Homo sapiens: one gene and its partners. The protein of the gene in region 1 purifies or fractionates together with the protein of each later gene. This does not show direct contact. Each region holds a gene or a part of one and is shown in the gene's direction. Other genes may lie near its edges.

Region 1 (3,730 bases):
GATATCTCAAAGTCCAGGCCCAAAAGGGTGGGGTCAAGAAAGAGGCAGGGGTTCCCTGTCCCACCTTCTTGAGCCCCATCTTCCAGCTCCAGTTTCCTGTCGAAGGACACCGCCAAGGACCACCCTCCTCAGGGGGAACCCCAGCCTCTACCCACAGAGGCCTTACCCTCTGATGCCAACAGACCAAGCACATCACAACACCAAACCAGATAGACAGGGACACACCTGGTCCCAGGGGAGCACGACAGATGCCCCCTCCATCACACTCCTCACAGGTGCCCATTCAACCTGCAGATGACAACCGCAGTCGCAGGTTGTTCACGGCGTCTCAGAGCACTTCATTCCATGTCTGAGCAGCCTGTCAGAAAGGCTGTGAACCCCCAGGAAGCATGTGCAAAACTTCTGTGTATGTGCATTTTTCTGGAGATGTGGTATATCCGATTCTCAGTGCACATACATATCCCAGAATGAAATCAGGCCTATACAGATAGCATGGTTAATATTAGGGGTCTCTGGGCTGAAGAAATCTAGATATGAGTCAGGTGAAAACCATTCATTGCTCTCCCCAATTCAGATCTGCTTCCGGCTAAGAACGGTGAGGAGCAAACCGTGCAATTCCTCCTGGAAGTGGTGGACATACTCCTCAACTATGTCCGCAAGACATTTGATCGCTCCACCAAGGTGCTGGACTTTCATCACCCACACCAGTTGCTGGAAGGCATGGAGGGCTTCAACTTGGAGCTCTCTGACCACCCCGAGTCCCTGGAGCAGATCCTGGTTGACTGCAGAGACACCTTGAAGTATGGGGTTCGCACAGGTAAGGAGGAGAGTTGGGTAGACAGGTAGTGGCAACTTTGCCCTCCATCTCACCCTTGCCAGTTGTGAGGATATCAAACTTGTGTTGGAAGAAAAACACAGCCCTGGTGAGATAAGGCGGCAAAGTACCCAGTGACCACAAGAACAAGCTTGGGCAGTAACAGTTGGTGGAGGGACCCGACCCAGGCAAAAGTTCATCAGCATATATCATGGTAAAAGTAGATAAAAAAGATATAAATGCTTGGTGCTAGGTCAAGTTCTGTATAAAGAGTTTTCATTCTGGCCAAGCACAATGGCTCATGCCTATAATTCCAGCATTTTGGGAGGCCAAGGTGGGCAGAACACTTGAGCTCAGGAGTTCGAGACCAGCCTGGGCAACATGGCGAAACCTTGTCTCTACATATGTGTGTGTGTGTGTGTGTGTGTGTGTGTGTGTGTGTGTGTATATACCTATTTTTATATATAAATATTTATATATAAATATTTAATATAATAAATAAATAATAATTATAAATAATAAAATTTAAAAATAATAAATTATAAATAATAAATATAAAAATAATATATAAATATTTATATATAATATTTATATTATATATTATATATAAATATAAATTATATAATATTTATATATATATGAAAATGAGCTGGGCATGGTGGCGTGCACCTGTAGTCCCAGCTACTCAGGAGGCTGAGGCCAAGAGGCAGAGGCTGCAGTGAGCCAAGATCGTGCCACTGCACTCCAGCCTGGGCAATAGATTGGGACCCTATCTCAAAAAAAAGAATTTTCATTCTTGGATTTAGGCTATTCACAACCTAAAGAGAGCAGAATGACCCATCCTCTGCTTCTTTTCTTGCCTCCATTTTCAGGTCTATTTCATTCTGATAAATCCTGCCCTTGCCTGTCCCTGACACTGGGGAGAATTGGGCTATTTCCTCTCCCTTTCTGTATTAGTTTCCTAGGAATGCCATTATAAATGACCACAAATTGGATGGCTCAAAACAATAGAAATTTGTTCTCTCACAATTCTGGAGGCTAGGAGTTTAAAATCAAGGTGCTGGCTATGCTCTCTCTGATGGCTCTTGGAGAGGATCCACCCTTGTCTTTACCAGCTTCCAGGTGTTGTGGATATTCCTTGGCATTTGTTGGCTTGTAGATGCATCGCTCCAACCTCTGCCTTCACTTCACATGGCCTTCATCCTGTGTGTGTGTCCAAATTTCTCTCTCCTTATAAGAATGCCAGTCGTTGGATTAAGGCCCACCCCAATCCAGCATGACCTCATCTTAACATGATTACATCCGCAAAGACCCGATTTCCAAATAAGGTCACATTCACAGGAACCAGGGATTAGGACTTGAACATATCTTTTTGAGGAACACAATTCAACCCATGACACCTTTTACCAGCTAGGCCAAAAAGACACATGCACACACAGGCCAAAAAGACACAGGCACACATGCGCGCGCGCGCGCACACACACACACACACACACACACACACACATACACACATGCCTTCTCATTCTACTGCAACTTCTGGAACTTAGGACACTCTGAGTCACCAAATTCTATTTCCAGTGGGAGTCCTTGAGGATGTCCTCTTGCCTCCTTTTCTTGTTCCAGGAGCTCTCTCTAATCAGCAATCCTCATCAAAGCAGTTGCTTTCCAATTGCCTCCAGTTCAAGGACTTTGGGGCCTCTGTCTGAGATGCTTAGAAACAGCTCAGACTGTGGACTAAGCCCAGGAGTGACACAGTGGTTTCTTCTCCCTATAACTCTCTCCACACTACAGTCTGGCTTTCCTGAGCTCTCAGGCAGACAGATCTAGAATAATTGACAGTCCCTAGCTTAGTTGCCACCACAGGGGAAGCCCCAAGGCCACAACTGGCAATCCTGTGTTCTTTCTTCTTCTTTGTCTCTCCTTCTTTATTTTCCCTCTCATTCTTCCTCGTCATTTGAAGATAGATTTAAGACTGAGACTAGGAGGCTGGTGGTGATAGAGCTGAGTAAGACTATTGGATGTCAAAAACAAAGTGTTATAATGAAATAATGATGCTGGCCAAAGATGCTTTTTAAAATGAGGAATCCCAGAGAGCTGCTGAGGTCTGCCAACACCACTGGAATAAGTGCAGCTTCATTAAATGACTGATGGATACACAAGACTCAGTTATATGTACAAAATTTATGTTGTTTGATTTTTAAAGAAAAGCACTCTATCAATTTACATTTAGTTACTTCTCATCTTGGTCAGATGGCTAATATATTCCTAATGGAAAACAAATAGTGTTATTCGGCTGCATTTTAAAAAGAGTCAGAATTCCCCATGTATGTTTAGCTTGACTTGCTTTGGTGTGATATTTTGAACTTTGCCAGTTTGCTCTACATGCGCTTTCTCAGAGAGATGAGAACTACATCATTTTATTATGAAAGCCCAGAATGGCGTTGTCCCTCAAATAAAAATACATGATTTTGTCATAATATCAACTAATATTATCTACAAAACCAAAGCATCTTGTGGTCAGAGAAAGCACTGACGGGCCTGGCCTGGTGGCTCACACTCGTGATCCCATCACGTTGGCAGGCTGGCAGGTGGATCACGCGAGCTCAGGAGTTCAAGACTAACCTGGGCAAAACCCCATCTCTACCAAAAATACAAAAATTAGCTGAGCGTGGTAGTGTGCACCTGTGATCCCAGCTACTCTGGAGGCTGCAGTGGGAGGATCACTTGAGCCCGGGAGGCGGAGGTTGCAGTGAGCTGAGATTGTGCCACTGCACCACTCCAGCCTGGGTGACAGCAGGACCCTGTTTCAAAAAAAAAAAAAGAGAGAGAGAGAGAGAAAGCATTGACTTTCATTAGTCCAGTGTATGAACCCACTTAGGTACTTAGCCTGCAAACATTCATTTTTGTTCCTCA
Region 2 (3,500 bases), on another chromosome or scaffold:
AAGCAAAATTAACAAAGGTCAACCAACTAGTGTTCTTGTTTCGTTCTAGGAAAACAGTGAGTCCAGGGCTGACAGGAAGCGGAACTGGAAGGGCAGCGGGGCAGAGGGCACTGACTCCATCACGGTGTGAGGAGCAGCAGCTCAGGGCCGACTGGGACCAGAAATGCTAGATTTTTATTTCTTGGGGACAGGCAGTGCAGGAGGGAGGCTGTGTGGGAATACTCCGAGGAGCAGGGTCGCTCTGAGTTTCACCTGTTCCTGCCGTTTTCCAGGTGGTTCTTTAGATCACAGGGTCGGAAGGAGGCTGAGAGGCAGCTTCTTGCTCCAATCAACAAGGCCGGCTCCTTTCTTATCAGAGAGAGTGAAACCAACAAAGGTAGGCTTGGTGGCTTTGCCTGCCTTCCTTGCCCTGCTCCTCCCGGGAAGGCGCCTCCAGAGGCCTGGCCCTGGAGTGAGAGGGGAAGGGGTGACTGCCAGGAGAACCAGCAGCTTCCGGGCTTGTGTCCCTCCCAATTCAGGCCCTGCCCGGGAGTTGACATGGGGGCTGTCCACACAGTCCTCCCTGTCCCGGCTGGAAACCACCTGGGCACAGGAAGCCGGGTGGACAGGGGTGGTCCCACGCCAGACTGGCCCTGCTGCCCAGTCAGCAGGAACACCGAGGCCAGTGGGGGCCAGGGAAGGGGGAACCCTGAGCCCTTAACCACCAGCCTCTTTGGAATCAAGGATTAGGGGGAGCTCAAAGAATCCTTCAAGATCATCTCAGCCAGAGGCTGCAGGTAGCATATGTTAGGAAGTGGCCTGTGCCGTGATGTAAGAGAAGAGGGTGGTAATTGAGGGGAGCCCATGCCAGTCTAGACACTCATGAGTTCAAATCCACTGACTGAGCAAAACAGCTGCCATCACCCTCAGGGGTTTTCTCTCTTTCTCTGTCATTTGGCTTTCTTTCCTTCTTAATTTTTTTGGTGTAAAATATAAAACACATATAAAGCTTGCATGAAGTATGAATGTGTAATTCTAAATCATATAGGGTAATAATAAACAAATCCCTGTGTAATGACAGCCAAGAGAAAGAGCATCCCAGACCACCAGGAGCCCCCTCACTCCCCCACTTGGGCTCCTTCCTGATTCAACCCCCACCCTCAAGAGCTACCTGCTGTCCTGACTTGGATGGAAATCCTTCCTTGCTCTTCTCTGTGGTTTCGCCACCATGTCTTGTCTGTTTTTTCAGCTTGATGTAGATAGAATCACTGTTTTTGTTTCTGTGTGTCTTGCTTCTGTCACTCAGCAGTGTTTGTGGGATTCTATGTTAGTTTCCTGGGCTGCCGTAACAAAGTGGCACAGACTGGGTGGCTTCCACCACAGAAGCTTATTATCTCACAGCTCTGGAGGCTGGAAGTCCACGACCAAAGTGTCAGCAGCGTTGGCTCCTCCCGGGAGCTCTCTCCTTGGCTTGCCGATGGCCGTCTTCTCTGTGTCCTCACGTGGCCGTCCCTCCATGCATGTCTGTGTCCTAATCTCTTCTTGTAAGGACACCTGTCAATTTGGATTAGGGCCCACCCATATGACCTCATTTTAACTTAATCACCCCTTTAAAGGCTCTGTCTCCACATATAGCCACATTCTCAGGACCGAGGGTTAGGACTTTAACATATGAATTGGGAGCGCACATGATTCAACCAGTAACAGATTCATTCATGTGGTTGAGGATGGTGAGCCTGTTCATGTTCATTGCTATACAGAATCCCGGGTGTGACCATTCCAGAGTCAAGTTAGCCATTCTCATGTTGTGGGCATTGAGTTGTTTCCAGTTTGGGGCTGTTAATGCATGTGTTGCACCGAACCCTATTATGGTCCCTGGTGCTCACTGGCCACTAGCTTTTCGTCTGTAAGATACTAATCCACTTGACAGATGAGGAAAGGGAGTCCCTGAAACAGGAAGTGACTTGCTGGGGGCCAACAGTAAGCATCAGAGCCCAAAGCACCAGTGACCACATCATCTAAGAGGCTGAGAGGCTTCCCAAGCTCTACAACGTGGCAAGCTAGGGTGACCCAGGGGCTTCCCAGGCAGTATGAAGAATGCTTTGCTCATCAGGAAGCTGTCCACAGGGACCAGGTACAGCCTTGTAGCCAATTTTAACTGGAGAGGAGATGGTGACAGTGACATCAGAGGAGGAAAGGGAGAGAGAGTGTCTGGAATATGAGTCTGGTTCCCTGTGGTTGGGGCGATGAGAATGGACAGAGTTGTCACCTGGTGGGAGCACCCTTGGGCTGTCCATTGGTTCCATCTGTGGCTCAAGAACAGCAGCCAGAGTGGAAACCCAGAGTATGAAAAGCTGTCATAGCACCCTGTGATTCTCTGGGGACATCATGAGGCCTTGGTGCCCCACAAAGGGGCAGGACCAGGTTGGGGAGCAGGAAGGGTGCATTGGAAAGCTGGGGTGCTCTGTGCAGGATTTCTTGGAATATGCCAATGAATGCATATACATACATATACATACACATAGATATATGCATTTTATATTTATATTCATATTGGATATTGTCACTATTTCATTTTTGTGGCAGAGCACCTCTGTACAAGAAATAATTTGGGAATCACTGGAGATGACATAAGTGTTTTATTGTTGTTCCAGGACATTTCAAACATACACAGAAGTAGAGAAAATAGTTTAGTGGAACCCCTGGTACCCAACAGCCAGCTTCAACAATTATCAACTGAGCCAGTCTTGTTTCATCTGTATCTCCCGCTCCACCCCTGTTCTTTCGAAGTAAATCCCAAACATCATGTCATGTCACCCTGGAAATGATATTTCAACCATTGCCTATTGCTAAGGTGAAAGCCTCCCCACCCCCTGCCCAATCTGGTGTGGAGGAAGAAGGGGTTCTCTATGAGTCTGGCATCTTTTCCTGTCCATGTCCACCCCAGGAAGCCAGTCCAAGCTGGGAATAGGCCATATGGGACCAGGGCTGCAGGACTGTTCAACCATCATCACCACCACACGCACATACACATGCACACATGAACACACATGCACATATGCACAAATGCACACATATACACACATGTGCATACACAGGCATGTGTGCACACATACACATGCAAACACATACACATGTCCACGCATGCACATATACACACACACGCACACATATACATGTGCACATATGCACAGATGCAATGAACACGTGTGCAACACATGTACACACCTTACACGTACATATGCACACACACACACAACTCCAAAGCAAGACCCCTCTGCTTCTCCGAGCCACAGCAGTGAATGCAAGACAGGGATGGAAGCAGGGGAGTGAGTTCTACCCTTCGTGGCCTCCGGGGTGTCCTTGAGCCTCTCAAGCCTCAGTTTACTGGTGTCTATGTGAGGATAGACTAGTTTCACAGCTCAAAGGCAGGCGGTCCTTCAGTGCTGAGAAATCTTCATCTCAGAGCCAGGCCCTGCCTGCCCAGGGCAGTCCAGACATACCACAGAGGCAGGGGATCC
Region 3 (3,730 bases), on another chromosome or scaffold:
GTGGATGGTGGGGGGCCTGAGGGTGTGCCCAGTCAGAGGGCTGAGGAGAAAGGACCTTTGTGTGCGACAGCTCCTGCTGCCAGAGCAAGTGTGGGTTTTATGGCAGCTGTGGCCTCCCGTCCTAATATAGTCAACAGCTCCAAATCCCCTGCCCTGACACCTGTTAGCGAGAGGTTCCCTGAGCTGACCTCTCCTTGGGCTGCCCCCCCAGCATGTGCATCTGACGCGTCGAGGGCCAGACCCCCACCCTCTCCGAATCACACGCATCCTGGTCAGCCCCCAGTTGACAAATTGCCTTCTCTCGACTTGGGCAGGGGCTGCTGGGGTTTTGAGGGGCGGGGTTTGTTCAGCTGTTGCTAGGGAAGGGTGAGGCTGAGCTATCCCAAAGGAAATGGGGTGTTCCTCTGGCAAGTGGCAATCTTGGCAAAGAACTGAGCATCTGGGGAGGGGGCAACTCCGGACACAAAGAAGTCCTGGGGAGGGCCGACCTTTCCCCTTAGGATGGGGGAAATGAAATGCGCTTAATGCTGCTACAGCTGCTTCCTAACTTTGCCTCTTTCTTCCTTTGACTTTTGGAGGAGTGGGGTGGAAAAGAGATGGGGGTTCCCAGGCAGCCAGCTGTTTTCCCCACTGACCCATGCTCCAATTCCCACTGCCCTGGCTCAGTAGCCTCCAGTAAGTGATGCCCAGGATGGTGCGGCTCCGTGTGGCCAGCGTAATTCCCTTTGTCTCTCCCCTCCTCCCCTCTCCCTGTCTTCCTCTCTCGCCCCTTGGCTTCCCTTCCCGGCCCCGTGGTGGCTGCAGCCCAGCCCTGGGGAGCCCCTGTGGAAGTGGAGTCCTTCCTGGTCCACCCCGGTGACCTGCTGCAGCTTCGCTGTCGGCTGCGGGACGATGTGCAGAGCATCAACTGGCTGCGGGACGGGGTGCAGCTGGCGGAAAGCAACCGCACCCGCATCACAGGGGAGGAGGTGGAGGTGCAGGACTCCGTGCCCGCAGACTCCGGCCTCTATGCTTGCGTAACCAGCAGCCCCTCGGGCAGTGACACCACCTACTTCTCCGTCAATGTTTCAGGTTGGTAGCCAAGCCCTGCCCTTGCCCCTCCCTAGACCCACCCCCTCCAGCCCTCTCTGCCAGTTTCAGAGGAAGGTGAACCTCCTCCCCCTCCGTGATCTGCCCCCACTCTGCTTCAGAAACTGCTGCCCACTAACATTGCTCCCTGCCTGCCGCGTGGCTTGGCTCTCAGAGAGGTGACTAGGTGGGGTGGGCCCCAGGGCCGGAGATCTGGGGCTTCCAGGACACACCTCGGAGGTGATTGCCAGGGCTCTTGGGATGTTAAGACCCTGTGATTTTTTTCCACCACAGCTTGCCCAGATCTCCAGGAGGCTAAGTGGTGCTCGGCCAGCTTCCACTCCATCACTCCCTTGCCATTTGGACTTGGTACTCGGCTTAGTGATTAGAGGCCCTGAACAGGTGGTGGTATCCCTGCTCTGCTGGAGAGGAACCCAGGTGCACCGCAAGGGAGCTGTGCGAGGGCAGCCAGGGAGCCCTGGAGCTCTGTGAACTTGGGAACTTGCCACTCTTAGAATGTGACTTTCACAAAACTAGGAGTTGAGGAAGTGGAGCTGAAATTTTCTTTATGCCATTTATGCACCTCAGGGTGTGGACTTGGCAGCAGATCCCCAAAGGTGATAGGAAGGACTGGAGAAAGATCTGGCATGAACCCTGATGGGTGACCACATGTGTATCAAGCGTGTTCTTACAAGAAATAAATACTTATTGGGGAGAGGTGTTGGCAGCTGCTGGGGTGGTGGGTGCCCTATCTGCTCTGATTAAGGAGGGCAGCCCCCAAACCTTAGTAGACACATGCTAGAAAAATTCTGACTGTGGGGTGTTTAGCCCATCCTTTGGAAATAGCATCTAGCCACAGTGTGTCTAGACCTGCCTGGGTTTCCCTATAGTCAGCCGTCCAAAGAAGAATACAGGTTGCCTGGCTCCAGCACACCCAGGTGGCACCACAAGTTGAGAAAGCGCCTTTGAATGTAGGACGGAATTAAGTTAAATAGGAACAGCTGACCCTGATGGAACCACCCAGTGTGAAGGCTTCCAGGCAGTGGGGGCAGTGCTTCGGGGAAGGAAGCAAACACGCACAGGAACTGTTCTTAAACAGTTTCCATCCCACCAAGAGATCATCACTAAGGGAGCAGTGGGACTGGGATCCCCATGGGGAGGGTGTCCGTGTTCATCTGGAACTGCACTAGCCTTGGTGAAATCTAGGGGTCCCTAGGAGGAACCTCAGTGCCCCTTCTTCTTCCCATAGATGCTCTCCCCTCCTCGGAGGATGATGATGATGATGATGACTCCTCTTCAGAGGAGAAAGAAACAGATAACACCAAACCAAACCGTATGCGTGAGACACTGTTTCCTATCTTACTGCCCTTTGGGTCTGGGCATTGGGTTTAAGAGGGGAGGGGAAGGCTGAAAGGGGAGGAAGAGGAGGGCACATGGGGTCACGGTGCCTGTTCTGCTAAGTGCCAGGCACTGCTCACAGGTGTTGGGCAGATGGGCAAGACACCTCCAGGTCCTGGCCTGGGCCCTGCTCCTGAGCCTGACCAGCTGCTCCTCTCCACCCTGCCTGTCTCTCTTGGCTTTCCCCGGGCAGCCGTAGCTCCATATTGGACATCCCCAGAAAAGATGGAAAAGAAATTGCATGCAGTGCCGGCTGCCAAGACAGTGAAGTTCAAATGCCCTTCCAGTGGGACCCCAAACCCCACACTGCGCTGGTTGAAAAATGGCAAAGAATTCAAACCTGACCACAGAATTGGAGGCTACAAGGTACGTGTGTGTGCATGCGAAAGTTAGAGTAATGGGAACAGGGGAGGCCGAGTTAGGAAGTCCTGATTACATGCTTTTCATTTTTTTAAGTAATACTTTCCACCTATACAGGTTATTCATTAAAATTTTTAAATACAAAAAAATGCAAATAAAGTTTAAACATTTCTTCAGTCTTCTTTCTGTAATATGGTTTTTACATAGTTGATCACATCATGTATGTAATTTCCTTGCCTTGTCATTTGTTAACATGAGTCTTTTCCTGATATATTTCAAGCATGAATATTTGAAACATAATTTTTCATGACTGTATAAGATTCCATTATTTTAAAATCCCATAATTTGGCTGGGCATGGTGGCTCACGCCTAAAATCCTATCACTTTGGGAGGCCGAGGTGGGCGGATTGCCTGAGCTCAGGAGTTCGAGACCAGCCTGGGCAACATGGCGAAACCTCCTCTGTACTAAAAATACAAAAAATTAGCCATGTGTGGTGGCAGGCTCCTGTAATCCCAGCTACTGGGGAGGCTGAAGCAGGAGATTGCTTGAACCCAGGAGACAGAGGTTGCAGTGAGCTGAGATCACGTCATTTCACTCTAGCCTGGGTGACAGAGTGAGACTCTGTCTCCAAAAAACAACAGAAAAAGTCCTATAATTTAATGAACTATTTTGTGATATTAGGTATTTTCTGGTTTTTCACCATAATAAATAATGTTGCAGTGAATCTCTGTCAGCATTTTTTTAAGCGTGCTTCCTTAGGACAGATTGTTACAAGTGAAATTACTAACTTAAAGGGTGTAAGCATTTTTTTTTTTTTTTTAGACGGAGTCTCACTCTGTCACCCAGGCTGGAGTGCAGTGGTGCCATCTTGGCTCACTGCAAGCTCCACCTCCCAGGTTCATG

The links.
Region 2: the proteins of GAD1 (region 1) and BLK purify together in Homo sapiens (affinity purification with mass spectrometry; one large-scale study listed by BioGRID and IntAct). This does not show direct contact.
Region 3: the proteins of GAD1 (region 1) and FGFR1 purify together in Homo sapiens (affinity purification with mass spectrometry; 2 studies listed by BioGRID and IntAct, with this or other methods). This does not show direct contact.

Annotation. Positions count from the first base shown.
Region 1 is NC_000002.12:170,830,376-170,834,105, forward strand, and holds part of GAD1 (glutamate decarboxylase 1), read left to right. Parts: intron 1-574; coding exon 575-817; intron 818-3,730.
Region 2 is NC_000008.11:11,549,887-11,553,386, forward strand, and holds part of BLK (tyrosine-protein kinase Blk), read left to right. Parts: intron 1-272; coding exon 273-376; intron 377-2,599; exon of another isoform or gene 2,600-3,500. UniProt on the Homo sapiens protein: Non-receptor tyrosine kinase involved in B-lymphocyte development, differentiation and signaling. B-cell receptor (BCR) signaling requires a tight regulation of several protein tyrosine kinases and phosphatases, and associated coreceptors.
Region 3 is NC_000008.11:38,427,023-38,430,752, reverse strand, and holds part of FGFR1 (fibroblast growth factor receptor 1 isoform 1 precursor), read left to right. Parts: intron 1-804; coding exon 805-1,071; intron 1,072-2,317; coding exon 2,318-2,407; intron 2,408-2,659; coding exon 2,660-2,832; intron 2,833-3,730. UniProt on the Homo sapiens protein: Tyrosine-protein kinase that acts as a cell-surface receptor for fibroblast growth factors and plays an essential role in the regulation of embryonic development, cell proliferation, differentiation and migration.